4 separate regions of the Homo sapiens genome follow, and regions 2, 3 and 4 are each linked to region 1. The links come from fine-mapping of genetic effects on gene expression. A gene starts in region 1. Each other region holds a variant in brackets. All regions are shown on one strand. Distances are from middle to middle. Region 1 holds the start of BMERB1 (bMERB domain containing 1). Region 2 overlaps MPV17L-BMERB1 (MPV17L-BMERB1 readthrough). Region 3 overlaps MPV17L-BMERB1 (MPV17L-BMERB1 readthrough). Region 4 overlaps MARF1 (meiosis regulator and mRNA stability factor 1).

Evidence for each region. PIP is the estimated chance that this variant, and not a neighbour inherited with it, causes the effect.
Region 2: its variant is fine-mapped to the expression of BMERB1 in skeletal muscle (GTEx, PIP above 0.99).
Region 3: its variant is fine-mapped to the expression of BMERB1 in whole blood (TOPMed, PIP above 0.99). The same link has a PIP of 0.9 or more in T cells and blood mononuclear cells.
Region 4: its variant is fine-mapped to the expression of BMERB1 in whole blood (GTEx, PIP above 0.99).

Annotation. Positions count from the first base shown.
Region 1 is chr16:15,430,523-15,438,259 of GRCh38, reverse strand. BMERB1 (bMERB domain containing 1) reads right to left here and starts at 3,672. Exons shown (of 6, transcript NM_033201.3): 1 at 3,501-3,672. The coding sequence starts at 3,606. The region is part of intron 1 of MPV17L-BMERB1 (MPV17L-BMERB1 readthrough); the gene reads right to left. RefSeq lists an enhancer at 2,746-3,368.
Region 2 is chr16:15,401,233-15,407,600 of GRCh38, reverse strand. All of the region lies in intron 1 of MPV17L-BMERB1 (MPV17L-BMERB1 readthrough), which reads right to left. The region is part of intron 2 of MPV17L (MPV17 mitochondrial inner membrane protein like); the gene reads right to left. Among named protein-coding and RNA genes, the nearest start is that of MPV17L-BMERB1, 8.7 kb to the right of the region's middle. The variant C/G (reference allele first, on the strand shown) is at 2,685.
Region 3 is chr16:15,505,040-15,511,407 of GRCh38, reverse strand. All of the region lies in intron 1 of MPV17L-BMERB1 (MPV17L-BMERB1 readthrough), which reads right to left. All of the region lies in intron 1 of BMERB1 (bMERB domain containing 1), which reads right to left. The region is part of intron 2 of LOC105371102 (a long non-coding RNA gene); the gene reads left to right. Among named protein-coding and RNA genes, the nearest start is that of BMERB1, 74 kb to the right of the region's middle. RefSeq lists an enhancer at 787-1,287. The variant C/G (reference allele first, on the strand shown) is at 2,110.
Region 4 is chr16:15,590,728-15,598,464 of GRCh38, reverse strand. It overlaps MARF1 (meiosis regulator and mRNA stability factor 1), which reads left to right. Exons shown (of 27, transcript NM_014647.4): 27 at 1,528-4,078. The coding sequence ends at 1,772. Among named protein-coding and RNA genes, the nearest start is that of MIR6506, 16 kb to the left of the region's middle. RefSeq lists enhancers at 7,099-7,393, 6,740-7,737. The variant GTTTC/C (reference allele first, on the strand shown) is at 4,809.

The DNA.
Region 1 (7,737 bases):
CAAAAATTAGTTGAGCGTGGTGGCAGGCGCCTGTAGTCCCAGCTACTTGGGAGGCTGAGGCAGGAGAATGGCTTGAACCTGGGAGGCGGAGGTTGCAGTGAGCTGAGATCATGCCACTGCACTCCAGCCTGGGGGACAGAGTGAGACTCCATCTCAAAAAAGAAAAGAAAAACCAGATTTGAGGATCCACGCAAGTACAGATCAGGAGCTGTTCCTCTTGCCTTTGACTAGGAAGCAAGACTGAGTCTTTGATGGTTTGAAACAGAGGGTAAGAAGGACTTTATACCAGACTCTTTTTTTTTGAGAGGGAGTCTCACTCTGTCACCCAGGCTGGAGTGCAGTGGTGCAATCTCGGCTCACTGCAAGCTCCGCCTCCCAGGTTCACGCCATTCTCCTGTGTCAGCCTCCCCGGCAGCTGGGACAATAGGCGCCCACTGCCACACCCAGCTAATTTTTTGTATTTCTAGTATAGATGGGGTTTCACCGTGTTAGCCAGGATGGTCTTGATCTCCTGACCTTGTGATCCGCCCGCCTCGGCCTCCCAAAGTGCTGGGATTGCAGGCGTGAGCCAATGCGCCTGGCCTTATACCTGACTTTTAACAGTGTGCAGCATAGGACCCAGAAGTACAAAAATTTCAGGATTGAAACTGCTGTAAATTGGGTGCTTGCTGCAATTTTCCTGCATGTTTCAAATTTTTTCTCATAAAATGTTAAGATATAAAAAGCTACAAGGGCATTATTGAAGAATTGACCAATATTTACATAATTCCTTGCAAAGAGTAAAAGCAGGTTCTGTCTATAAATGTTGTGCAGTAACCGAATGGAAGTGAACAATACGTATTGAGCACTTAACCTTGAGTACTATATGTATCATCTTATTTAGTATACACAATAAAGACATAATCTCTATTTTCAGAAAATGAAGGCAGAGTGAGGCTTAGCAATACTCCTAAAGTCACATAGCCAGCAAGGCACAGAGTGAGGATTCAAAGCAGCACTCTTGTGAACAGCTTCCATTCTGCGTGGACCCAGCATTTTTTTAAGGCCTCTGTGAGCTTCAGAGAGCAACAGGGCTGCCACATAATTATAAAATCACTGAGCATGTTCTGTGACTATCTCAATAGACTTAGGAAGTTTTCTGAAACCATGAAAGCAATAAACCTTCATGTTAAAAGCAGGCTCTGGGGTCCAACAGACCGGGGTTCAAATCCTGGTTCTGCCACTTAACTGTCAGATCACCTAACAAGTCCCAGTTTTGTTTTGTTTTTTTAAATCTATGCAAGATTTTAAATTTATATTTAAATTTTTTATTTTAAAATGTTTTGTTTTAAAATTTTTATTTTAAAATGTTTTTTTAAATCTAGGCAAGATTTAAATTTATAAATCTTAGTACTGCAGGAGGTTGTTGAGGGGACTAAATGAAATGATGCATTTAGAGTTCTCAGCACATGGTCATCTAGCAATAAAAGGCAGCCATTGTTGAGATTATTTTGAGCTTGTAAGAAACAAGAGACCCTCATGGAGATACAGAGTAGAATGATGGTTACCAGAGGCTGGGGAGGGTATTGGGATGGGGGGACACAGAGATGGTTAATGGGTACAAAAATATAGGTAGATAGAATGAATAAGATCTAGTATCTGATAGCACAACACGATGACTACAGTCAACAATTTATTGTACATTTAAAAATAACTAAAAGAGGGCAGGTGGGGTGCCTCACACCTGTAATCCCGGCACTTTGGGAGGCCAGGGCAGGCCGATCACCTGAGGTCAGGAGTTCGGGACCAGCCTGCCCAACATGGTGAAACCCCATCTCTACTAAAAATACAAAAGTTAGCCAGGCATGGTGGCGAGCACCTGTAATCTCAGCTACTCTGGAGGCTGAGGCAGGAGAATCGCTTGAACCCAGGAAGTGGAGGTCGCAGTGAGCCGAGATTGTGTCATTGCACTCCAGTCTGGGCAACAAGAGCGAAACTCCGTCTCAAAAAAAAAAAAAAAAAAGCTAAACTAAAAGAGTATAATTAGTCACACAGCTGGGCTTTTTTAAAAAAGGAGTGTAATTGGATTGTTTGTAACACAAAAAAAAGGATAAATGCTTGAGGTTTTGGATACCCCGTTTACCCTGATGTGATTATTACACATTGTATGCCTGTATCAAAATATCTCATGTATTCCATAAATATGGACACCCACTATGTGCACTTAAAAATTAAAGAAAGAAACAGAGACCCTCAGCCCTGACGCCCTGATATTATGCCAAAGCACCAAGTCATTGGGTCTTGAAAGGATGAACTAGAAAGAAAGACCAAGGTTAAAAAGGGAGAAAAAAAAAGAAAAGGAAAGAGGTTGGCAGTGCTATGACATCCATCCTAGCCCATGAACCACTAAGACATTGGATTGTGATTTCAACTTCAACCCGTCAGAATCAGAACACAGTTGAGCCCTTCTAGGAAGATTTTCTAAATCCATAATTACAGGTATAGAGAAAGAAAGCGCGCACACACAATTTTCCACCAGGTGAGGACAGAATAAGATCACATTCACAATACTTTAGCCCTACATCGCTCAGAGATCCGTGCTGGGGCAGAGCGCGGAGCAGTGACCCAGAGCCGAGGCAGGAAGCTGCCGGGTCCCTGAGAAGGACCTCTCCTTCCCAGCCTGGTGGGCAAGCCATGTGAGAGCAGCGGCTTTGGGGAGCCCCCGGGTTTGCAGGGACCTCCAGTGACCCTGGAGCCCCTGACGCTGCCTCTACACTTTGAGGGCAGGAGTTTCAACTATTGTATCCTATTAATGAAAAACAAAATCCTTCGTTTACTTAGAAATGTTGACATCCAAACACCGCAGAGAGAACCAGTAAATAAATACAGCCGGTCTATTTCGAAACTGCCTTCTAGAGTTGTGCCCAAGCAGACTTTAACTGAGTCAAGAGAGAAAAGAGAACGGTGTGTGCCTTTTGACCCTTTTGCCGCCCCAAGCCTCCCACCCCGACCCAAGGAAGGCGAGGGAGGAAAAGCTGGGAATTTCAGGTGCGCTCCGAAACCTCACGCAGGGGGTAGGAAAGCAAGCGGAAAACCAGCAGACACTCCCCCCTCTCCAGGGACGTGGGCGCTTTCCAGGACGGTCCCGCGTCTCCAGCGCCCTGGCGCATCCCAGGCGGAGAGAGGATCCTCCTCCCTGGGCTGTGGGAGAGACCCGACTTCACAGGACCAGCTGCGAGCTGACGGATCCGGGACTCCTAAGTCGAGCCCAGGCTCCTGCCTTAGCTGCCTGGCCATCTCCCAACCCTCCCAGTGAGGCTCAGCCCGGAGGGTCCCCCCCTTTTGTTCGCGGGGAGAGCGCGTCGCTGCGCAGAGCTGCGTATCCCCCTGAGCTGCCAGCCCCGCTGCGGGGGCGCTTCCCTGGGTCCACTGCTGGCGTTCCTCGCGCTCCCGCGACCACCCGCGCAGGCGCATGGATCCCCAGCTGTCCCCGGCCCCCCGCCCCCCGCCCCAGTACTCACTTCTCCCCAGTCTCTCCGTTTTCCAAGCCGTCTCCTCCACCGCCCCATAGCGCCTCAGAGGCTTCTCGGCTTCCAGATGGGTGGACAAAGATTGCTTTAATTCCATCGCTGATCCCCGTGGCCAGGTCGACGGGTCTCCCTTTACTCCATTCCCGTTGCGGGCTGCAGGGAGGGAGGTGGCTCCAGCCAGCAGCGTTTTAACGGGCCGGGCGCCCGTGACGCTGCTCCCTCTCCTCCGCCGCCGCCAGCGCCCGGGAGCGCCTACGGGTACCCAGAAGGGGCAGGGATGCACGGCACATGCGCAGTGGAGGCTTGGAGGGGAGGCTTGGGGGCTGGGTAGGGAGACAGAGGGGCAGGTGATAACTCTAAGAAAAACAACAAACAAAACAACTAAAATAAAAGCAACACAAAGGAAGTGAGAACAAGGCCCCTGCCTATTCTAGAGCCCCTAGTGATGCTTGGCATGGGGCTGGCACTGTGGGCGGCTTGCGAGCTGTAAGCCGGCAGCGGGTTTTGAGTGGGATTGGTGAGCCCGTCTCTACCTGCGGGCGATGCATCCGTCTTTCTGGGGAGCATGCAGAGGCGTGAGTGTGGACCTAGATCTATGGGTTCTGGGCTTGGCTGACTGCTTTTCTGTGAGAATATCTGTCGTGTGCGTCTGTTTAATTTGAAGTGCGACAGTGGATGCCTATGTCAGTTCCATATGTGTTTGCATGCACTTTGGGGAGAGAGAGAGAGAGATGAAAATATTTTGCACACAGGTATAGCAGAGCTGTTTGGAGCATGGGGCTTTACTTTCCAGAAACCCCAGAGGTTTATCTTTAAAAACAAACAAACAAACAAACAAAAAACACCATGGCAGTGCCTGGGCACGATGGCTCATGCCTGTAATCCCAGCACTTTGGGAGGCCGAGGTGGGTGGATCACTTGAGGCCAGGAGTTTGAGACTAGCCTGGCCAACATGGTGAAACCCCATCTTTACTGAAAATACAAAAATTAGCCAGCTGTGATGGCGCAGGCCTGTAATTCCAGCTACTCGGGAGGCTGAGGCAGGAGAATCGCTTGAACCTGGGAGGCAGAGGTTTCAGTCATCCGAGATCATGCCATTGCACTCCAGCCTGGGCAACAAGAGGAAAACTCCGTCTCAAAAAAAGAAAAGAAACGAAAAAAAGAAAATGATATCCCAGTAGGAAACAGGGAAAGAATATGAATAGTCATGTCATGTGGGCAGAGGAGGAAGGCCTAATGTGAGAAGCTGCTCAACCCCCTTAGTAATAAGGAAAATGAAAATGTAAATAAGAATATATCATCCGATAGGCAAAAACTAAAAAATCTAACAATCATGTGTTGTAAAAGATGTGGATTTTTTTTTTGAGACAGAGTCCAAAAATGCTGGGGTTACAGATGTGAGACACCATGCCTGGCATAATTTGAACTTTTATCTAATGCTAGTGGGAGTATAAATTGGTACAACTGTTTTTTTCTCTCTGTCACCCAGGCTGGAGTGCAGTGGCATAGTCTCGGCTCACTGAAACCTCCACCTCCTGGGTTCAAGCTCCTGAGTAGCTGCGACTACAGGCGTGCCACCATGCCCAGCTAATTTTTTGTATTTTTAATGGAGATGTGGTTTCACCATGTTGGCCAGGCTGGTCTCGAACTCCTGAGCTCAAGTGATCTGCCCGCCTTGGTCTCCCAAAGTGCTGAGACTACAGGAATGAGCCACTGTGCCTGGCTGCATGAATGTAATGTTTATTGTTCTCAGGTATATATGTATAACTCTACAAATTATATATAATAGCGCTATTTAACATTTTCTTATAATTTATACAAATGATATCATACTTTATAATTCTGCAAGTTGCTTTTTTCTGTTGTTGTTCCACAATATGCTTTTCTTCCTTTTAAAAAGATAGAGACAGGTTTTCACTGTGTTGCTCAGGCTGGTCTTGAATTCCTGGGCTCAAGTGATCCACCTGCCTCAGCCTGCCAAAGTGCTAGGATTACAGGCGTGAGCCACCGTGCCCGGCCCACATTATGCTTTTGAGAAATACGAATTCTGATTCATGTAACTCTGGTTCATAGTCTACTGTATAGTATTCTACATGAATGAACCATAATTGGTCTATTTTTTCATTGATGAGGTATAAAGATTATTCCCAATTGTCCACAATTACAAACATGGCAGCAGCAAATGTTTTTATACTCATTTCCCTGTACGACTGAATAGGAGTTTTTCTAGGGGGAAAAATTACAATGGCATGGGGTATGCACATCTGCCAGTTGGACTAGAGTGTCAACCTGCTTTTAAAATTAGTTGTACCAGGCCAGGCACAGTGGCTCACGCCTGTAATCCCAGCACTTTGGGAGGCTGAGGCGGGCGGTTAGTCTGAGGTCAGGAGTTCGAGACCAGCCTGGCCAACATGCTGAAACCCCGTCTCTACTAAAAATACAAAAAAAAAAAAAAAAAAAAAAATTAGCCGGGCCTGGTGGCGCACACCTGTAATTCCAGCTACTCAGGAGGTTGAGGCAGGAGAATCACTTGAACCCGTGGGACGGAGGTTGCAGTGAACTGAGATCATGACACTGCACTCCAGCCTCAGTGACAGTGAGACGCTGTCTCAAAAAAAAAAAAAAAAAACAATAAACATTACATTCAGGATAGTAATTACTTTAGGAGGCTGGGAAAGGGTAAGTAGTTAGTTTCAGCTATATCTAAAATTTATATATTTTTAAACTATTTACAGTATTTTGAAAATTTTTAAATCTACAGAAAAGTTGCAAGTTTAGTACAATAAGAAAAATACAGACCTTGGCCAGGTGCGGTGGCTCATGCCTATAATCCCAGCACTTTGGGAGGCTAAGGTGGGAGGAATCCTTGAGCTCAGGAGTTCGAGACCAGCCTGGGCAGCAAAGCAGTTTTCCATCTCTACAAAAATTAAAACATTAACCAGGTGTGGTGGCACACACCTATAATTCCAGATACTCAGGAGGCTGAGGTAGGAGGACTGCTTGGGCCTGGGAGGTCGAGGCTACAGTGAGGCAAGACCACACCACTCTACTCCAACCTAGATGACAGAGTGAGACCCTGTCTCCAAAATACACACACACACACATATATATATATAGTTTGTGTGTGTATATATACAGTATGTGTATATATACGTTATTTTATATAATATGTATGTTATTTTCTTGTATATGTGTGTGTATATATACAATATATATATATATACACACGCACACACATCCCTTACTAGATTCACTAATGAATATTTAAATTTATATTTCTTAAAAGAGATCTGAAGCATATATGTTAAAATCTGTTGGAGATGGCTGGTGGGCACTACACCCTTACCAGAATGACTAAAATTAAAAAGACTGACAATACCAAATGTTAGTCCAGATGCTAGTAAATAAATGAGTTAGCAGTTAGTAAGAATGTAACTACAATTTATTGCTGTTCGGAGTATAAAATGGTACTACCACTTTAGAAAATGAGAGATAATGGCTGGGCGTGGTGACTCACGCCTGTAATCCTAGCACTTTAGGAGGCTGAGGTGGGCGGATCACCTGAGGTCAGGGGTTCAAGACCAGCCCAACATGGCAAAACCTCGTCTGTGCTAAAAAAATTCAAAAATTAGCCAGGCGTGATGGCACATGCCCGTAATCCCAGCTACTCAGGAGACTGAGGCAGGAGAATCGCTTGAACCCGGGAGGCAGAGATTGCAGTGAACTGAGATTGCGCCACTGCATTCCAGCGTGGGCGACAGAGTGAGACTGTCTCAAAATAAAAAAGAAAGAAATAAAAAAAGACTGGCAATACCCTCTAAAGCTACAAATACATATATATTTTTCTGTCTGGCAGCAATTCTATTCCTGGATATATCCCTAAGAGAAATACATACTTGTGTCCACCAATGTTAAGAGCTTTACTCATAATGACAAGAAATGAAAACAACTCAAATGTCTATCAACAATAGAATGGACAAAAATTATGCTATATTCATACAACTGAATCTGCACAGCAACGAAAAAGACCAAACTACTGGCCAGGCACAATGGCTCACACCTGTAATCCTAGCACTTGAGGAGGCTGAGGTGGGCAAATCGCTTGAGCCCAGGAGTTCGAGACCAGCCTGGGCAACATGGCAAAATCCCTTCTCTACAAAAAATACAAAAATTAGCCAGGCATGGGTGGTGTGTGCCTGTAGTCTTAGCTACTCAGGAGGCTGAGGCA
Region 2 (6,368 bases), 30 kb after region 1:
CTGGCTAATTTTTGTATTTTTAGTAGAGACGGGTTTTCACCATGTTGGCCAGGCTGGTCTCGAACTCCCGACCTCAGGTGATCCACCACCTCGGCATCCCAAAGTGCTGGGATTACAGGTGTGAGCCACTATACCTGACCTAGAATACCTTTTAACCACACAAAACAATTGCACAGTTCATTCCATAAAAGAGTAAGAAATACTAGGCCAACAAGATGCCTAGGTAGTATTATATTTCAGACTAAGCTGATTAACTTAGACTACTTAAGGCCTCTAGAGTGAGGGGGTTGGGGAGTTGTGGGGAAAAAAGCTATTAGGTAGAAGACATTCCTATATTAATTATATTTTTAACACCAGAATGAAAAGTCTACTAGAATCAGTACCAATTCTGGAAGACAGCGGCTTTGGAAATGACAGCATGTATATATGCATTGCAATTTCCTGGTTACCATGAACAAATGATGCAGGAATATATTTGTAAATACAGAATCATCAATGAATTCTTTTTTTTTAAATTAATTTTTTTTTTTCTGAGACATGGTATCTCTATGTTGCCCAGGCTGGTCTTGAACTCCCAGGCAAAAGCAGTAGTCCCACTGCAGCCTCCCAAAGTGCTGGGGTTATAGGCATGAGCCACCTCATCCTGCTGAATTATTTTATTTATTTATTTTGTTTGAGATGGAATCTCATTCTGTCGCTTAGTCTGGAGTGCAGTGGCAAGATCTTGGCTCACTGCAACATCTGCCTCCTAGGTTCAAGCAGTTCTCCTGCCTCAGCTTCCTGAGTAGCTGGGATCACAGGTGCCTGACACCATGCTCGGCTAATTTTTGTATTTTTAGTAGAGACAGGGTTTTACCATGTTGGCCAGGCTGGTCTTGAACTCCTGACCTCAGGTGATTTGCCTGCCTCGGCCTCCCAAAGTGGTAGGATTACAGGCATGAGCCACTGTGCCCAGCCTTGAATTGTTGAAACTATATACCAAACCATTGTTTATGGAATGATTTTCTAATAATATATTGAAACCATGTGATGCTATAGAACAAGTTTAGCTGAAATTTTCATATATTACAAAATATGTTAGATAGACATTTCACAAGCTTTATCCTACACAGTCCTATGAAAAAGTCATCATTATGATTTTTTAAAAAAAAGTCTTGGTATGTAAATTTATCTCAAAAAACAGCTAGAGGTTTTCAAAATAGTCCTTAAAAGTGGTATTACAGACTTATTTTCTTCTTTTTACTAATTTGTATTTTCTGAAGTTTCTAAAATGAACAATTGCAATAAAAGCTTTATAATATTTATGTTTATATTTAAAAGTAGATATTACATATAATGTGTGTATACATATACATATATACGTATATATACACATATATACGTATATGTGTATGTATATATATATATTTTTTGAGATGGAGTTTTGCTCTTGTTGCCCAGGCTGGAGTGCAATGGTGCGATCTTGGCTCACTGCAACCTCCACCTCCTGGGTTCAAGTGATTCTCCTGCCTCAGCCTCCGAGTAGCTGGGATTACAGGTGCACACGACCATGCCTGGCTAAATTTTGTATTTTTAGTAGAGACAAGGTTTCATGATATTGGCCAGGCTGGTCTCGAACTCCTGACCTCAGGTGATCTGCCCGCCTTGGCCTCCCAACGTGCTGGGATTACAGGCGTGAGCCACCATGCCCGGCCATAATGTATATTTTATATTTATTTATTTTTTTTGAGACGGAGTTTCGCTCTTGTTGTGCATCTCAAATTCCCGAGCTCAGGTGATCTGCCCACCTCAGCCTCCCAAAGTGCTGGGATTACAGGCGTGAGACACCGAGCCTGGCCCTTAATTGTTAAATATGCTTTAAATATAAAATATACCCCTGTAATCCCTGCACTTTGGGAGGCCAAGGCAGGCAGATCACCTGAAGTCGTGAGTTTGAGACCAGCCTGACCAACATGTAGAAACCCTGTGTCTACTAAAAATAAAAATTAGCAGGACGTGATTGCAGGAACCTGTAATCTCAGCTACTCAAGAGGCTGAGGCAGGAGAGTCGCTTGAATTCGGGAGGCAGAGGTTGCAGTGAGCTGAGACTGCACCATTGCACTCCAGCCTGGGCAACAGAACGAGACTCTGTCTCAAAAAAAAAAAAAAAATTAAAACTTTAGCAAAAATAATCAGAAGACTAAACTTATCCAAACATGGCTTTCCTTCTTTCTTTTTTTTTTTTTTCTTAATACAGACGAGGCCTCACTATGCGGGCCAGGTTGGTCTTGAATTCCTGACCCCAAACAATCCTCCAACCTCCGCCACCCAAAGGGTTAGGATTACAGGAGCCACTGTGCCTGGCCATGGCTTTATTTCTTATGGCTGTGTTTTTTTTCTTGTCAGAATGTAGTATCATGTAGTAGTATATTTTGTTCTCAAATCATTCCCCCACTAAAAGGAAGCAGGATGCCTCAAAGAATTGGCTGATTCTAGGGCCAGGGCAGGGCAGGTGCAAGTACAAGATGATCCTGGAACACGCTGTCATGCCAGAAAGGAAGTGGCTTAAGAAAGAAGTAAAGGAGAAAGAAGATGGGTGATGCACAGGACACAGGAACCAGCTTGGGGGAACTCCCACTGGCCGAATCTGGGACATGTGAGCGCTAAAAATAATTAAACCCTGCCATGAACTCTCCTCTGTGCTT[C/G]GGCAATCTCCCTCTGAATAGGCCAAAGGCATCTGACATTCAACATTTCCCAAGCTGAACTCACCTCATTTCTTTTTTGTTTGTTTGTTTGTTTTGAGATGGAGTCTTGCTCTGTCACCCAGGCTGGAGTGCAGTGGTGCAATCTCAGCTCACTACAATCTCCGTCTCCCGGGTTCAAGTGATTCTCCTGCCTCAGCCTCCCGAGTAGCTGGGATTACAGGCACTCACCACCATACCTGGCTAATTTTTTGTATTTTTAGTAGAGACAGGGTTTCACCATGTTGGTCAGGCTGGTCTCGAACTCCTGACCTCATATGATCTGCTCGCCTTGGCCTCCCAAAGTGGTGAGATTACAGGCGTGAGCCACCATGTTTATTTTTTTAAATACAGACAGGGTCTTGCTATGTTGCCCAAGCTGGTCTTGAACTCCTAACTTCAAGGGATCCTCCTGCTTCAGCCTCCCAAAGTGTTAGGATTACAGGCGTGAGCCACCACACCTGATATGCTTCCTTATTTCTTATGTGAACTTGGTCACGATAACCACCCACTTTGGTTTCCTTTGCTGCCATTACCTAACTGTGAAGTTCAAGATCCTCAGCTCTGGGTGTTCAACAGTCTCCAGGATCCAAACTCATTCCAAGTTGCTCAACAAATACTCTGTGAACACCAAACTGCCTGTGGTTTCTCCCCTCCAGGCATACCATGGTGCTTTACGCATTGTCAACTGTACTCAGCTCTTCTGCCCCTGGAATGACCTGTCCCCCAGTATGTGCATAACTTCAGATCTTTATTTTATTTTATTTTTTTATTTTGAGACAGGGTCTCACTGTGTTACCCAGGCTGGAGTGCAGTGGCACAATCGTAGCTTACTGCAGTCTCGACCTCCTGGGCTCATGCTAATTTTTGTATTTTTAGTAGAGAGGGGATTTCATCAAGTTGGCGAGGATGGGCTCGATCCCTTGACCTCATGATCCGCCTGCCTTGGCCTACCAAAGTGCTGTGATTACAGGCGTGAGCCATCCTGCCTCTTTAAAGGAAATCTTCCCAAAAAATCTCCAGATGGGCTGGGCTTCAGACTACTGGTTTGCCCTCTTTCTTCTCCTGAGGGTAGATGAGACTCACTCATTGTAACCAGTTTTTTTTTTTAAACAGTATGCAAATGTTCCTGTGGTTTTGTTCATTTACAAATCCCTGCCTGAAGCTTCTTTCCCAATTCTACTTCCTGCTCTCTTTTTTTTTTTTTTTGAACCATGGTCTCACTCTGTCACTCAGGCTGGTGTGCAGCGGTGCAATCACAGCTTACTGCAGCCTCGACCTCCCAGGCTTGCAATCCTCCCATCTCAGCCTCCCGAGCAGCTGGGACCACAGACACTTGCAACTATGCCCAGCTAATTTATTTTATTTTTGTAGCGATGGGGTCTCACTATGGTTGCGCAGGCTGGTCTCAAACTCCTGGGCTCTAGTGATCCTCCTGCCTTAGCCTCCCAAAGTGCTGGGATTACAGGTGTGAGCTGCCTACTTCTTGCTCTTTTTTTTTTTTTTTTTTTTGAGACGGAGTCTCGCTCTGTCGCCCAGGCTGGAGTGCAGTGGCGCAATCTCAGCTCACTACAGTCTCTGCCTCCCGGGTTCAAGTGATTCTCCTGCCTCAGCCTCCCAAGTAGCTGGGACTACAGGCTTGTGCCACCATGCCCTGCTAATTTGTTGTATTTTTAGTGGAGACACGGTTTCACCATGTTAGCCAGGATGGTCTCGATCTCCTGACCTTGTGATCTACCCGCCTCCACCTCCCAAAGTGTTGGGATCACAGGCATGAGCTACTGCCTCCGGTCCTTGCTCTTTAAAAAAAAAAAAAAAAAAGTTAGATGTACATATCTCCATAGACTTTACAACATAATGGAAAAACTTGTTCCTTTTTCTAAAGTAAAACAGAAGAAGTGGCTGGGTATGGTGATTCATGCCTGTAATCCCAGAACTTTGGGAGGCTGAGGGAGGCGGATCACCTGAGGTCAGGAGTTCAAGACCAACCTGGCCAACATGGTGAAACCCTATCTCTACTGAAAAATACAAAAAATTAGCTGGATGTGGTGGTGCAAGTCTGTAATTCCAGCTACTCAGGAGGCTGAGGCAGGAGAATTGAGAATTGCTTGAACCCGGGAGGCAAAGGTTGCAGAGTGCCACTGCACTCCAGCCTAGGCTACGGAGCAAGACTCCGTCTCAAAAAACAAACAAACAAACAAAAAAACCAAAACACACAAACAAAAAACAAAACCAGAAGAAAATCACATTTGGTTGTCACCATGGGGTCCTCAATTTCTGCCCTAAGAGAAATCACAAGAGTTCTGAACACACTTATAGTTACTGTTCCTGAGTATAGAGGCTCAGGGGAAGCCTCTGACTTCAAACCTCTCCATCCTCTGCCTCTAGCCATCAAGTAATGCTGGCTCAGGGGCCTGGTACCATCCAACAGATGATGCTAGAAGCTGTGGAGGTAATAGCTGGGTGTGGCTCAACACTGCTTTTGATAGGGAAGGAAGAACATGTGAAGCCCTAGGCCAGTCTGCGAACATTCTGTAATCCCAAAGATTTACCTCCTTGTGATGAATGCAATCAAACATGCTCTAGGGCAGAGATGAAAACCATCCCTGATTTTGCCAGGCCTTAAGGACACTGTTCAATAAATATTAACTGAATCAATGAATAAATATGTATTGGACTGGACTGTATATATTTGTGCCGAGCAAACAGTAAAAATGCTGATTTGCTTCAAACCTTGGAATAACCCTTGGAAACCTTCTCCTTCTCTATCAATACCTTTGTGATGTTAAAGTTCTTTTCACCAGGACTCCGCAGGATGCTCACCTGAAAACATTGGCTCTGAATGTGGGAATGATTCCATTAAGCCACTCACAATCTATAATCTCTATTTTGCAAATAGAATCCCAAATTTACAGAATAAATTGTTGTCCCTTTGGCTGCAAAATTTACAAAGTAAATTGTGATCATTACTAAGAGTTAATATAATAAAGTCAGAAATCACTGAGAACATGGACTAAAATTCAGAGATATTATTTCTTTTCTTTTCTTCTTTTTTCTCTTTTTTGAGATGGAGTCTTGCTGTATTGCCCAGGCTGGAGTGCAGTGGTGCGATCTCGGCTCACTGCAACCTGTCTCCAGGTTCAAGTGATTCTCCTGCCTCGGCCTACTGAGTAGCTGGGATTACAGACATGCACCACCGTGCCTGACTATTTTTTGTATTTTTAGTAGAAACAGGGTTTCACCATATTGGCCAGGCTGGTTTCAAACTCCTAACGTCAAGTGATCCGCCTGCCTCAGCCTCCCAAGTGTTGGGATTACAGGCATGAGCCACTGCACCGGGCCCAGAGACATTATTTCTTTCCAGTTCATGAGAAGTACAGATACTCTTAAAACCTCTCCTCATACATCTATCAAAATAACTTTAAGATTTCTATGTCAAAATATTGGACCCTTCTGTCAACCAAACTGGAGCTCTAATTTAGGAATAGTTTAATAAAAATGTACTTAATGTTGAGGTGGGAGAATCACTGGAGCACAGGAGTTCAAGGCCAGCCTGTGCTACATAGTGAGACTCTGTCTCTACCAAAAAATTTAAAAATAATTAGCTGGGTGTGGTGGCACATGCCTGTAGTCTCAGCTACTCAGGAG
Region 3 (6,368 bases), 74 kb before region 1:
CAATCACCTCCTCCTTGCCTTCTAAAGATGGCGGGTCCCGAAGATTATCTGGCCACCTGGCCGAGCCTCTGCCAGGGAAGGGTGAAAAGGGAGACACAGTGGAGGGAGAGGAGGGAGTGTCAAAGAGAAGCAGGAAGGAGAGAGGTCAGAGGAGCCACCTCAGGCTGTGGCTTGGGGAGAGGGAGCGATGTCTGTTTGCAGAGGATTTGTAGGAAATGTCTCATGTGATGTGCTGCCTAAAGATCTCCTGGGGCCATCTGGTTATGCTTCAAGGCCCCTGGAATCCAATTTCGGGTCCTACTACTGTCCCTGACACCATGCTGTGGTGGCTCCTGGGATTGAAGCAGTGAGGACAGGCTTGAGAAAGGAGGGAAGGAGGGAGGAATAGGATCGAAATATTAATATTGGCTGGGCACGGTGGCTCACGCCTGTAATCCCAGCACTTTGAGAGGCCGAAGCGGGCGGATCACCTGAGGTCAGGAGTTCGAGACCAGTGTGACCAACACGGTGAAATCCAGTCTCTACTAAAAATACAAAACTTAGCCTGGCATGCTGGCAGGTGCCTGTAATCCCAGCTGCTTGGGAGACTGAGGCACGAGAACCACATGAACCTGGGAGGCAGAGGCTGCAGTGAGCCGAGATCATACCACTACACTACAGCCTGAGGGACAGAGTGAGACTACGTCTAAAAAAAAAAAGATAATTAATACTGAGTGCTACTGTGTGCTGTGATGCTACCAAGCTAGAAGACCAGCCTTACCAGATCAGATGGCCTGGGTTTGAGTTCCAGTTCTGCCCCTCCCTGGCTGTGTGGCCTTGGGGAGTTGGTTAACCTCTCAGCAGCTCTGTTTCTCCTCTGTAAGGGAGCCCACCACCCAAAACAGATGTGAGGGATGAATTACCCCGGCACGTCACGTTTAATATATGCTTGCAATTGCCCTCGTTATGACCGCCGCACCTGCTCTGCCCATCACCTCTTTTAATCCTCGCCATAAGCCAGCAAGTTCAGTAGGTTCTCATTTTCGCAAAGAAACAAAGGCTCAGCGCTGGCAAGGGAAAGAGCTGAGTCCAGGTCTGGCTTCAAATTCATGCTTTTTGACCCTCACAGCTGCCTCTGGTCCAGGCAGCTGTTCTAAGTCCGACACCCCCCATTCATTCCTATCTCAGAGTCAAGCGTGGTGCCATAACAATTCATGGCCAGTGGGGAGGCTTAAAACAAAAGGAATTTAATCTCTTGGAGTTCGGGAAGCCAGAAGTCGGAAACCAAGGTGTTGGCAGGGTCACGCGCTCTCCAGAGGCTCTAGGGATGGATCTTTTCTTGGCCCTTGCAGCCCCTGCTGGCTCCTTGGTTTGTAGTATTAGGTTGGTGCAAAAGTAATTACGGTTTTTGCCACTGGATGTAATAGCATCACTTCAACCTCTGCCTCTGTTTTCACAGGTTCTTCCTCCGGGTGGCTCTGTGTGTCTTCTTTTCTGTCTCATTAGATTTAGGGCCCACCCTAATCCAATGTGAGCTCATCTGGATCCTGATCTGAATTACCCCTGCAAAGACCTTATTTCCAAATAAGGTCACATTCTGATGTTTTAAGATGCACATGAACTTCAGGAGGCCACAAACCCACAAGAATGAATGGCCACAGCCTTGCAAGCTTCCTGACAACAATGTCACTCTCTCCAGGGGCTTGAGATCCTGCACACAGAGCACAGCCTTGGCTGGAAGCAGCAGGGGTCCCAGCGGGAGTCACCAGGGGGTGAGGGAAGTGCATGGGGGAAGTGGGGTCTGGCAAAAAACAGCTAGGCGGGGGCAGTGTCAGAAATCCTCATTTGACACTAGTCATCAGCCGCAAGACCTCGAATGAGTCCCTTTATGTCTTTGCGTCACTTTCCTCCTCTGTACAAGAATTCAATAGTTACCTGTGCTGGAGGCTTTCTGTGTATTATCTCATTTAATCTCTATTTTACTGAGATGACTCTGAGGCTTAGAGAAGGAAAGTGACTTGTTCAACATCACACAGCCAGATCATTGCAGAGATAGTATTCAAACCCAGCTTGTGCTCTCTCTCTCCCCCCCCACCCCCCTTCCACTCCACAACCACGTGACCTTAACCA[C/G]GTAATCCAGCCTCCTGGTGAGGGCTGAATGCATTTGTGCCTGCGAAAGTGCGTAGTTAACCACCCCACGATATGAGTATCCTTGTTTTTCTCATCACAGTTCAGATGGGCAACCTGATTTCCATGGGACAGATGCTGAAAACGGCAACACACCCTGGGGCGAGGCGTGGGACGAAGAGAATTAATCACATCCCAGGAACTGGCATTTTACCTCCATCCCCGGGGGAGGATGGAGGCGGTGGTGCCAGGCTCCAGGTGCTTAGCTTGGATTTGGGGCAAAGAATGGAACAAAGACCTATGTTGAAAAGTCTTGCTCAAGGATGTTTTTCTTCCCCAAGAGAAAGGAACGAAGCCTAAAGCTTGAATCAGATACAAATCGTTAGAATCCTTTCTTGCCATGAGCTGTCTCTGCATCAGGCACTGTGTTGGGCTCATTGTAAACCTCATCTTTTTTTTTTTTTTTTTTTTTTGGTGGGGCAGGGTCTCGCTCTGTCTTCCAGGCTGGATTGCAGTGGCATGATCTTGGCTCACTGCAGCCTCAACCTCCCGGGCTCAAGCAATCCTCTCACTTCAGCCTCCCGAGTAGCTGAAATTACAGGTTCACTCCACCACACCCAGTGACTTTTTTTGTACTATTTGTAGAGATGGGGTTTTGCCATGTTGCCCAGGCTGGTCTCCCAACTCCTGAGCTCAAGTGATCTGCCCATCTCAGCCTCCCAAAGCGCTGGGATTACAGGAATGAATCTCATCTCATTTAGTCTGCACAATACCTTAGGCCAGGGGTTGATACCCTATGGCCAGGGGACCAAGCGCAGCCCCATGCTTGATGTTGTAAGTAGAGTTGTTCTGGACACTGATCACGCTCATTCATTTACATGTCATTTATGGCTGCTTTTGCATTGCAAAAACTGAGTAGTTGCCACAGAGACTCCCTGGCCCACGAAGCCTCAAATATTCACTACCTGGCTCTTTATAGAAAAAGTTGGCCAACCCCTTCCCTGGGTGGTATACTGTAATCTCTCCAGTTTAAAAGTTAGGAAAGCCAGGTTTACCCAGTAACGATAATAACTAACATTTATCGAGCATTTATCACATGCCAGCACCTGTGCATTACCTTATCTGATTCTCAAAACAGCCCTGGGTGGTCAGTGCTGTTATCCCATTTCATAGATGGGGAAGTCGAGGCTCAGGAAAGGGAGTAAGTGATGGAGGTGAGATTTAAAACAAGATCTCTCTTACTCCAAAGCTCTTGTTGTAATCAACCATATTCATGTAAGAACTACCTCCCTACGTAAGTACCATCATCATCATAACAAAACTGAGTAGACTGTATTGCTTTAGACACAGAGGGAGTAGTTATTCCCAGACATCAGTGGGCAAGGTGAATATCTAGGGAGGTTGTTTAAGAAACAATTCCCTGCCTCCACCTCCAAGGATTAGGATAAACCTGGGTTGGGGTGTTGTGTCCAGGGACCTTAATGAAGGAGGTCTTCAGATCAGAGTGAAAAATGCTGATACAGGACCTGAATAAATGAATATCACACACAGTCAGCTTCTTTCCAGTCTGAACTTGTGTGATAGAAATTAGCCTGCTAGACTGTTCCTTTCTTGATCACATTTTCCAACTAGAAGGCAGGCATCCGACAGCTGCCAAGGAATGTCTCCACGAGGAGGACAAATCACGGGAAGAAACGGGAGGAGCATTTCAAGCTGGCTAGAGACAACAAGTCTCTCACGCACACTTCCAAGCAAGAGCTTGCTTGCTGTGTGGAGACAGCAAAGCATGAAGGCACAGACGTCCCCAGGGCTCCAACTGCCACTGCTGTCATTGAGCTTCCAGGAGCTGAGTCACTTCTGGGGGAAGAGGCAGCTAAATCCATCTTCCCATCCCCAAATGCCACCCCAGGGAGATGCATGCTTCCTGAGCGGTGGCACCAGCAAACAAGAGCTGAGCACCCGGGCAGCCCTGGTATGCACCAGCAGGTTTAATCACTGATCTCAAAACAAAACAAAAAGTAAGGCTACCCAGGGACAGGAGTGGTGGAGGTGATAGAGGATGAGGGCTGGTGATCTAAAAACTTCTAGTTTAAATACAAGCTTGGAGGGTTAAACTGCTGGGGACCAGAGAGATACCTTTCCTAGCCCATCTTTTCCAATCAGGGGTCATGGTAGGAATTTAAGCTCAGGGTGCCCTGCACAACCTCTGCCTTTACTTCTGCTTTATAACTTTACGTGCCTAGTACTGGCCCCAGAGCTTGCTCATTTTGGGTGTTTACCGGAGCCATGATCTAGCTCATATCAACCTCTCTTTCTAGATTAATAAAATGAGGCTTAGAGAGGTCATAAGTGATTGGTCAAACTCACTCACTCAATTGTTGCAGCAACATCAAGGGTTCTGTCTAGATCCTGCTACTCGCTGCACAGAAAGCCAATCACTGAGGCAATGAGTATTGCCAGAGAAGGCTTTAATTGGGTGCTGCAGCTGAGGAGATGGAAAGAGACTCAAATCCATCTCCTCAACCCACTAAAATTAGAGGTAGCAAGGAAGAAACGCAACCATGTGTTACATTGTGATACATCCCTATTCTTTTTTTTTTTTTCTGGGAAATTATTAGGAAGGGGTAAGGAAGAGAATCTGGTCAACAGGATGCAGGTGGTTGGTTAGGCAATCGTGATGGTTGAGGAGTCTGGCATCTCATTGTCCACATATAGTGATCTGGTAAATTTCAATTCCTTAATACTATCTGGAAGGCCGAGAGGTCAGTTTCTTGAGAAAGGAACTCAGGTAAAATGAATGTAACTTTCTAAAATTTTAAGATTAGGAGGGGGCTGGGCACAGTGGCTCACGCCTGTAATCCCAGCACTTTGGGAGGCTGAGGCAGGTGGATCACAAGGTCAGATAGAGACCATCTTGGCTAACACGGTGAAACCCTGTCTCTACTAAAAATACAAAAAATTAGCCGGGCGTGGTGGCGGGCACCTGTAGTCCCAGCTACTTGGGAGGCTGAGGCAGGAGAATGGTGTGAACCTGGGAGGCGGAGCTTGTAGTGAGCAGAGATCGCACCGCGGCACTCCAGCCTGGGTGACAGAGCAAGACTCCGTCTCAAAAATAAAAGAAAAAAGAAAAACAAAAGATTAGGAAGGTAAATTTTTGTGTTTATTCAAACAAAACAAAACACCGTAAACATCAGTTCTAAGGGGCAATTGGGGCAGTGCTATAATGAGTGGTAGAAATGAAACTCAAACCCAGATCTATCTGATCCCAATGCCCATGCTCTAAGGTCAAAAGAGCTACAAAACAGTGTTTCCAAAACTCTCAACACTGCATAGAATTTACCCCAGCTACATATTCTGTACTCTGTCATATACCACTCAGTATGTCATGACATTCACTTTTTTTTTTTTTTTTTTGAAACGGCGTCTCGCTCTGTCACCCAGGCTGGAGTGCAGTGGCGTGATCTTGGCTCACTGCAAGCTCTGCCTCCTGAATTCACGCCATTCTCCTGCCTCAGCCTCCCAAGTAGCTGGGACTACAGGCGCCCACCACCACACCAGCCTAATTTTTTGTACTTTTAGTAGAGACGGGTTTCACCATGTTAGCCAGGATGGTCTCGATCTCCTGACCTCATGACCCACCCACCTCGGCCTCCCAAAGTGCTGGGATTACAGGCGTGAGCCACTGCGCTTGGCCGACATTGACTTTTTTTACTCAAACTCCCTAACGGAAATGTCCCATGACATCCACAGACAATAAATGACTCTTACTTGGCATAATTAGAAAATAGCCATGAAAATAAACCTGAGGAAACAAAGCAATACTGTTAAATTCTTGCTAAATACTATAGCCTGCTTAAGGTTCAGAATGAAGCTTGAATTTTCTTTCTTAACAAGGTGAATCAGCAAGTACTAGGGGCATTAAAGACAAAGCTAGCACCAAATTGTGGCTTTCTCCTTTAGGTAATCAAAAAGGTTGATAATTGGGGAGAAAATGCGTAGCTTTCCTGAAGGGAAATTCATTGCTGTTTGATGGTACAAGCATGAAAGTACCACTGGGGGTACCTATCCCATCCCCTGTTGTAGAATAGAATTCCAGTCCTTTGCGTTGGAAAGGTCTTAAACGACGTTTTGGTCAGCCTCATACCTGTGTTGGATAGGATGTAAAATGACTTGGCAAGATGTGGTTCCCAGGGTCCCTCAACAAACGGTTCTCATTCAAACTTCAGTGAGAACTCAAGCTAGAAGGACAATTCTCAGCCATG
Region 4 (7,737 bases), 160 kb before region 1:
ATAAAGGGGTGAATGGAGGGAGGTGTCTGTGGCTGGAGCCCCGGACTCTGCCCAGTGATATAACAGACAGGAAGCTGAGCACACTGAGTCCCAGCCTAGTGCAGGCATTGGCACTGACCCTGTGCTCAGGGCTGACAGACACCATCACATTTAACTCTTACCACGGCTCCAGGTGAGAGCCGTGGAATAAAGGCAGCTGCTTTATTCCACAGGCTGCGTGACTAAGGCACAGCTGGTGCCGTCACTAGAGAGGCAGTGGCCCCGGGCTGCTGGGCTAGCAAGGGCAGAGCCGGCATTGGAACCCAAGCCCTCTTGTCCTGCGGTGTCTCCTGGCCTCTGGAGAGGATGGCCCATCTGCCCTGTACAGATCCCTCCCTGCTCTTCATCTGTTGGAACCCAACTCCTCCCCACTGCTGGTGCTGCTTTCCAGGTCACCAGGAACAACCCGTGGACTCCTGGCTTGGCTTTTACCATCTTGGTTGTTCTTGGCAGCGTTCAGCACTGTTGCCCAGGAAAAGAACTGAGGCTGTTGACTTGGAAAATAGGAGATGGGGAAGTAACTGCCTGCGGATAGAACCAGCCTGTGCAGTCAGACCTAGACCATGCCCTGCTCCTGTGCAGTGCCCCCCTAGGGTTGGTGGCACATTGATGTTAGCTCGTTTGTGGGGTTGTGGCCTTTGTGCCTTCAGTCTGGGCAAGTTCAACTGCATGCACCGGACAAGAGAGGAAAATAATTAAAACACTGTGGGCAGTTCTGTCAGCCGCTCTTCTCTTGAGGGTCAGCCTAGGCAGGGAGCTGGCTCTGCTGTCCCCTCTGCCACTCTCACCTTCCATGGGCCTTTGGGAGCAGGAGCCCTGTGCCCTATGCAGTGGGAGTCTAAGGCATAATGATGCATCTCTTTCAAGCAGCGTGGCCCTGTGTGTAGAGCAGGTGAATTACATGTGGCTCAGCCACAGAAATGGCAGTCCAGAAGCACTGTGGGAAAGCTGGCTGTGCTCAACTTCCTGGGTTCTGAGGGTAATTCTCACTCTGCGTAGTCCTTCCTTATCCCCGGTAATAGACCCATGGGGAGCATAGGTCCTCTCTAAATGGAGCAGGCCAGGAGCTCCCTGACACCCAGATGCTCCGACCCCACCCCCTACCACCCACGGCCTCCCGCCTCAGGAAGTCTCTAAGTCGTGGATAGCTTTATGGGTCCTTAATATCTGGCAGGCAGAATGAATGGGCAGAGAATCCAAAATGGAAAAACAAAAAGTTTTAACCTTTGCTCATTCATTTATAGCTCAAAATAGAGATCTTTCCAACTTTGTAATCCAGTGGGAGAGGTGGGATGCAGTTTATAGATACTTGATTTCTGTGCCAAGTTCACTGGCCACACAACTCATATGTAAACTGTGGCATAGATGTAGCATTTAGAAGCTTTTTATTACTATTATTATCTTTTGAGAAAATATGAGCAAGGAAGAGAAAACCCACACTTCTTACAGTTCCTGGATCTGAATCTGTTTGCTTTTCTGTGTTTACAGAAATTATGATTTTAAACCAAGAAGAAAAAATGGAGATTCCAATACCAGGAAAGAGCAAAACTCTGACCTCTGACTCCAGCTCGTCCTGCATCTCAGCAGCTGTCCCCGTGCCTCCCTGCCCCTCCTCGGAAACCTCCGAGTCACTGCTCAGCAAGGACCCCGTGGAAAGCCCGGCCAAAAAGCAACCCAAAAATAGAGTCAAATTGGCAGCCAACTTTTCCTTAGCACCTATAACCAAGCTTTAACTCCCATTTGGAATATAGAATTAGGATGGGAAAACACTGTCTGATTCTGCACACAAAAGTGGGTTTCAAAAATACATCCTTTTCTGTGTCATGAAAACCCCCCGAAGCCATTGACTTCATCTTACCTGTGTTCTATCATGTTTTTCTTTTCCATTGAACACAGCTTTGAGCTGAAGTCTTTCTTTTCTTCTTCCTTTTTCTTTCTTTTTTCAATTATTTGAAGAACTTGTGGCATTTGTTAAAGAATCCTTAATATATTTTACCAAATTTTTAGTAACTATTATGAAATACAATGGTGTTCCAAAAGAAGAAAGCACTAAAAACTCAACTAGCAGGAAGCGGTTTTGCTTCCATTGAGCCACGTCGGTGGTGTCATCCTACATGTAGCATAATAGAGTCTCTCAGCCTTTGCTTACTGGTGTTTCCGACAGTATTAACCCAGTGCGTGGCATGTCTTTGAAGCAAAGCCTGTCCCGCTAGCCTGTGTGTTCACACACCAAAGGAGAAGGGTAGGCGAGGGGTTCGGAGTGTATTTTCAGGTTGGAATGTGAAGGTTCCTGGCTTCCATGTGACTTGTAAGTGTGCCTTGTTTTTTATTTAAACTATGTCTGTAGTTGACAAAAGTGGCTTCATCACAAATTTTTTTAAACGTTTCTACTTTGGGGTTCCATTTAGGAGCTTTCTAGAAAGTTGAGGATGTTTGAAGCTTCCCTTCTGTGTTCCAGTTTGATATGGGTTAGGTTAAGGAAAAGGAGATGGTCTCGATGTCATGGATTTAAAGTCAGCATTTGGATTACAACACACATTATTGTGTGTCGAGAGGCAGCATTGGAAAGAGCCTGATTTTCTAAAATATGCATCAAGTGCATAAATTACAAATCAGAGCTGAGTGGGGAGGTGCTTCAGCAGCAGCGGGATCAATACGATTTCCACTGGGAAGAGACAGGAATTCTACCTACACATAGGAAGGCCAAGGTTGATCCACTTAACCTTGTTATTGTAATTTTAAAGCTGGTATCGGTAGCTGGGAAGCTTTATGTGTGTGTATGTCAGCTCAGCATCTTTTAATCGTGTCTGATTTTACTCTCGTTACTTCTCGCTGTTGGAAGCATCTCTGGGTTTCTTGTGGCGTCTGGTGTGGAATGGCCTTCCTCTCTAGGTGCCTGAGGTGTCCGCTGACGGGTGGCCTCTCACCCCCCTCTAGAGAAACCTGACATTTACAATGGATTGTATTTGTCCGGCAAAAAAGGCGGATTCATTCATAGAGCAGAAAGAACCTGTTGGCGTAAGGTCTTCCACTAGTTAGATGGTTTCTTTTGGGGAAATGTTTATATTTGGTAACTTCTAGAAAGCCAGAAAATGGACTCTGATTTCATAGCATTTTGATAAAATGCCACAAAATAAGGGCTATAGAGAGATTTTTACAAGTCAGATTTTTTGTTCCCCAAATCTTTTAAATGAAGCCAGTGACTCCCAGTTCTCAACACATGGCCCCAGTCAAGACAGAACACCATGGAAAAAACCCTGTAAGTATTATGGCACTCTCCGAATCCTCCTGAAGGCATTTCCTCTACAGACATAGTGTTACAGGAAGTGAAATGCAAATGTGCAATTTTTTTTAAAGGAGCTTTTAAACAAAGTAATAATAATTGGTGTTGAGAACATCAGTTGCCTTATTCTAAGATTTCATAAGGCTGAGTTTGCACGCTTGGACTTCAGTTCTGCTAGCATGTAAAGAGTGGTGGACTTTAAAACCGTAAGAGGTATCATTACAAGTCACCTGGAACAGACTCAAAGAACAGGTTCTTTGGGCAACAGACAAAGAAGAATCAAGTTCTGTGCTGTCCCGTGAGTGTGTCTGAGTACCATTCACTGGAGTTGCTGCTTAGGTCTGGGACGTGTGTGTGACTCTTAACAATTGCTGTCTGAAAATGAGAGAGAAGACTTCGGAAGCACATTGTGTTCATAATGTACTCCACAATGGCCAGTCCAATTGCTATCTATTTTTTTATCCAGAGGCTTAATTAAATGATGTGGTAAAATGATGTTTGAGCATTAAGACAATGTAATTCTTTATTTCTGGGTGGAAAGATATACCGGATTAAATTTATCTGTTTAAAAAAATGACAAAAGTTATCACCAAAACCCCCTTTCCCATCTTGCACTGTTTGTTTTGGATTGGGTTTGGGGGAAAGAGATGTTTTTCTTAGTTGTCTACTTTGTTTGAACACTTTTGTTGTGGTTCAAGTGCTGTTTTGTGTGTTGGGACCAAACAGTTGTCAATAAACTTTACAAGCGAGCATCTATTTTGAGTTTCCCAAGTGAGTGGTTTTGTCTGTCTGTCTGTCTGTGGGGAGGAATTACAAACCAATACAGTTCTGCCATCTTTCATTTTGGGTCTCCTCAACTTCTCTCCCCTTCTGGAAATAGAATTGTGAGGTGGAGAGTAAATCCGTCTACATCTTAGAGGCCTTTTAAACTCAGCACACGCCGAAGCAGGTGGCTGGATGGTGGGCCCTTCGTCGTCAGGATCCTCCAAGTTTTCCAGCCTTTGTTCCAGCTTATAATTACATGTGGGAAAATACAGTAACCACAAAAACCTTCCAGTTAGAAAACTCTATTAATTCCTAGGCTCTCTCTTCTTGTGAAAGAAATCCAGCGTGCCCGCTGTCTCGTTTTTGGTCACTGCTAAGCATGCTTTTTGAATAAGCCAATTTGGAAAAGAGTTATTCCACAGATACAGTTGTGAAGCCCTCCCATCCCCTGAGACCGCCATTACCCCGTCACCCCTGCCACCAGCACCCTCTGGCAAGAATTTAAAAGGACCCAGAAGAGACTTGAGTAAATTGCTTCTTGATGACATTTTTTTCAAGTTCAGCAATGTTAAAAGCTGCTAAAGACCTTTCCAAACATTTCACGATGGCAAATTTGTGCAGAAAAAGTTGAGTAGCCATCGTGCCCCTTTTGAGCGGCGTCAGGAGGTCTTGTTAGGTGTGGACTGGGGCTGGAACGGTGGCTTTGCATTTATCTTTGTTT[GTTTC/C]CCACCTAGGAAGGTGATTCAGAGGTGGGGGCCTAGAAGACAGCTGTCTGGGGGAGAGCAGACCTGTCCGTAGCAGAGGGGGCTGCGCTGATTGAAGAAGATCTGTTCCCTCTCTGTTCCCTTTGCCAGAAGGAGCGTTGCGCTTTGGGATTCACCTTCACTTTCTAGCTGCTTCCATGGGCAGAGGGTGAGTCATGGCGCAGAAGCCCTCAGCGGCCTCCACCCACCTGCTGTCCCCATTGCTGGGGGGGGGGGCGGTGGGCGGCAAAACTTCCTCAATTCTCCTAGTGTCCCTGGCTGGGCCTTAAACTGACAAAGACATTAATAGGAAAAAAGCAAACAAATTTTACTTCATACCAGTTTTGCGAGAGTCTTCATAAGGAAATGAAGACCCCAGAGAAATGGCTAAGCCTGAGTGGTTTTTTGTTTTGTTTTTTGGTTTTTTGAGACAGTCTCACTCTGTCACCCAGGCTGGAGTGCAGTGGCATAATCTCAGCTCACTGCAACCTCCACCTCCCAGGTTCAAGCGATTGTCCTGTCTCAGCCTCCCGAGTAGCTGGGATTACATATGTGCACCATCACACTGGCAAATTTTTGTATTTTTAGTAGAGATGAGGTTTCACCATGTTGGCCAGGCTAGTTTTGAACTCCTGAGCTCAAGTGATCCTCTGGGCTCAGCCTCCCAAAGTGCTGGAATTACAGGCATGAGCCACCACGCCTGGCTGAGAACGCTTTTTTTTGGGGGGGGGGGGGGCGGGGGGAAAAGGGCTAGAGAGCTTAGAAGGTGCCAAGCCAGAGCACCAAGAGCCAGAACTTTCCTTAGCAAGATGAAGAGAAGAATACACACGTTCCGGGAAGGAACGCCTTGGAAGTGGGGGAGCTGAGGTGCAGAGGAAGAAGGCATTGCAGGGTGGAAGGGGCCGTTCTTAGAGGGAAATCCTGCTCAGTGGCTGGGCTGCTCAGCTCCTCACTCCGCACGAGGTGGTGAACCAACCAGGAGCATCCGCAGGGGAGCAGTACCAGGGCCAGCAGGGAACATATTGGGCCTGCTTGGCACCGTCTCTTCCATCCGCCTCAGGCAGCTCATGTGATGGCCTCCAAAGGCTTCCCAGGTGCAGGGCCTGGGCATGAGGGAACCCCCGCTCCTACCACCCACCTGCCCCCACTGCAGTTTCTGGTATCAGCAAGTGCAGACAAATCCACACTGGGGCTGCAGGGTCGCCGCCCTTGGTATTTCAGCAGCCAGAGTCTGATGCATCAAGGGCAGGTGTGGCAAGAATCAGGAAATACATTTTTTTTTTTTTTGAGACAGAGTCTCACTCTATCGCCCAGACTGGGGTGCAGTGGCACGATCTCGGCTCACTGCAACCTCCTACCGGGTTCAAGCGATTCTCATGCCTCAGCCTCCGAACAGCTGGGATTACAGATGCTGCCACCACACCTGGCTAATTTTTTTTGAGACGGGGTTTTGCCATGTTGCTCTGGCTCGTCTCAAACTCCTGGCCTCAAGTGGTTCACTTGCCTCGGCCTCCCAAAGTGCGGGGATTACAGGCGTAATATAATATAGATATTATATATAGATATAGATATAGATGTCTCTATAATATCTATATATAAATAGATATATCTATTATATATAATAGAGATATATATCTATATATAATATATAGATATCTATATATTATATATAGATATATATCTATATATTATGTATAGATATAATATAGTCACACAGTCAACCATGCCCGGAACCCCCAAGCCCCCACTTTTTTTTTCCGAGATGGAGTCTCACTCTGTTGCCCAGGCTGGAGTGCAATGGTGCGATCTCGGCTCTTTGCAACCTCCGCCTCCTGGTTTCAACCGATTCTCCTGCCTTAGCCTTCCGGGTAGCTGGGATTACAAGCATGTGCCACCACACTTGCTAATTTTTGTATTTTTAGTAGACATGGGGTTTCACCCTGTTTTTTAAATTCTCTAAAAGGAAGAGGACACTTTTTTTGTTGTTGTTGTTGTTGTGTTGTGTTGTGTGTGTGTGTGTGTGTGTGTGTGTGTGTGTGTTTTGAGACAAAGTCTTGCTGTGTCTCCAGACTGGAGTGCAGTGGCGCAATCTCGGCTCACTGCAACCTCTGCCTCCCAGGTTCAAGCGATTCTCCTGCCTCAGCCTCCCAAGTAGCTGGGACCACAGGCGCCCACCACCATGCCCAGGTAATTTTTTTGTATTTTTAGTACAGATGGGTTTTCACCATGTTAGCCAGGATGGTCTCAATCTCCTGATCTCGTGATTTGCCCGCCTCGGCCTCCCAAAGTGCTGGGATTACAGGCGTGAGCCACCGTGTCCAGCCCTGTTTGCTTTTAAATGGGAGAGACCTGTTTAAATCCCTCCGATGGGAAGAGAAAGAACAATTGGGGCTACAGTGGTGGGGAGGGAGGGAGATGAATGATGACTCTGTCACTAACAACCCCTGGGACCGTGGGCAGTGGATTTACTGCCACTTCCTCATCTGTAAAGTGAGAAGTGATAACAGGATCTGACTCACTGTTTCAAGTGTTTATTCTGCCTCCGCTTGCAACCTCTTGCAACCTCCGCTTGAAAAGGGTAATGGATTTACTGCTACTTCCTCATCTGTAAAGTGAGAAGTAATAACAGGATCTGACTCATCAGGCTGATGTGAGGAGGGAACCAGCCAGTGTGAGCACATTGCTCAAGGCATAGAGATAAGCTACAATAAATGTTATTCCCATTATCAACCTCCTCCATGGCTTCTAAAAGGAGCAAGTCTAGGTGTGCAGGACCCCACAGTCTGCAAGGTTTCCCAGCTTGGAAGGTGGCCCTGGTAATCTGGAAGCGTCTGTGACAGCTTAAATAAATTGGATTTTTTAATGTTTTCTTTTTTTAAAAAAATCAGTAGGAATTACAGGAACATA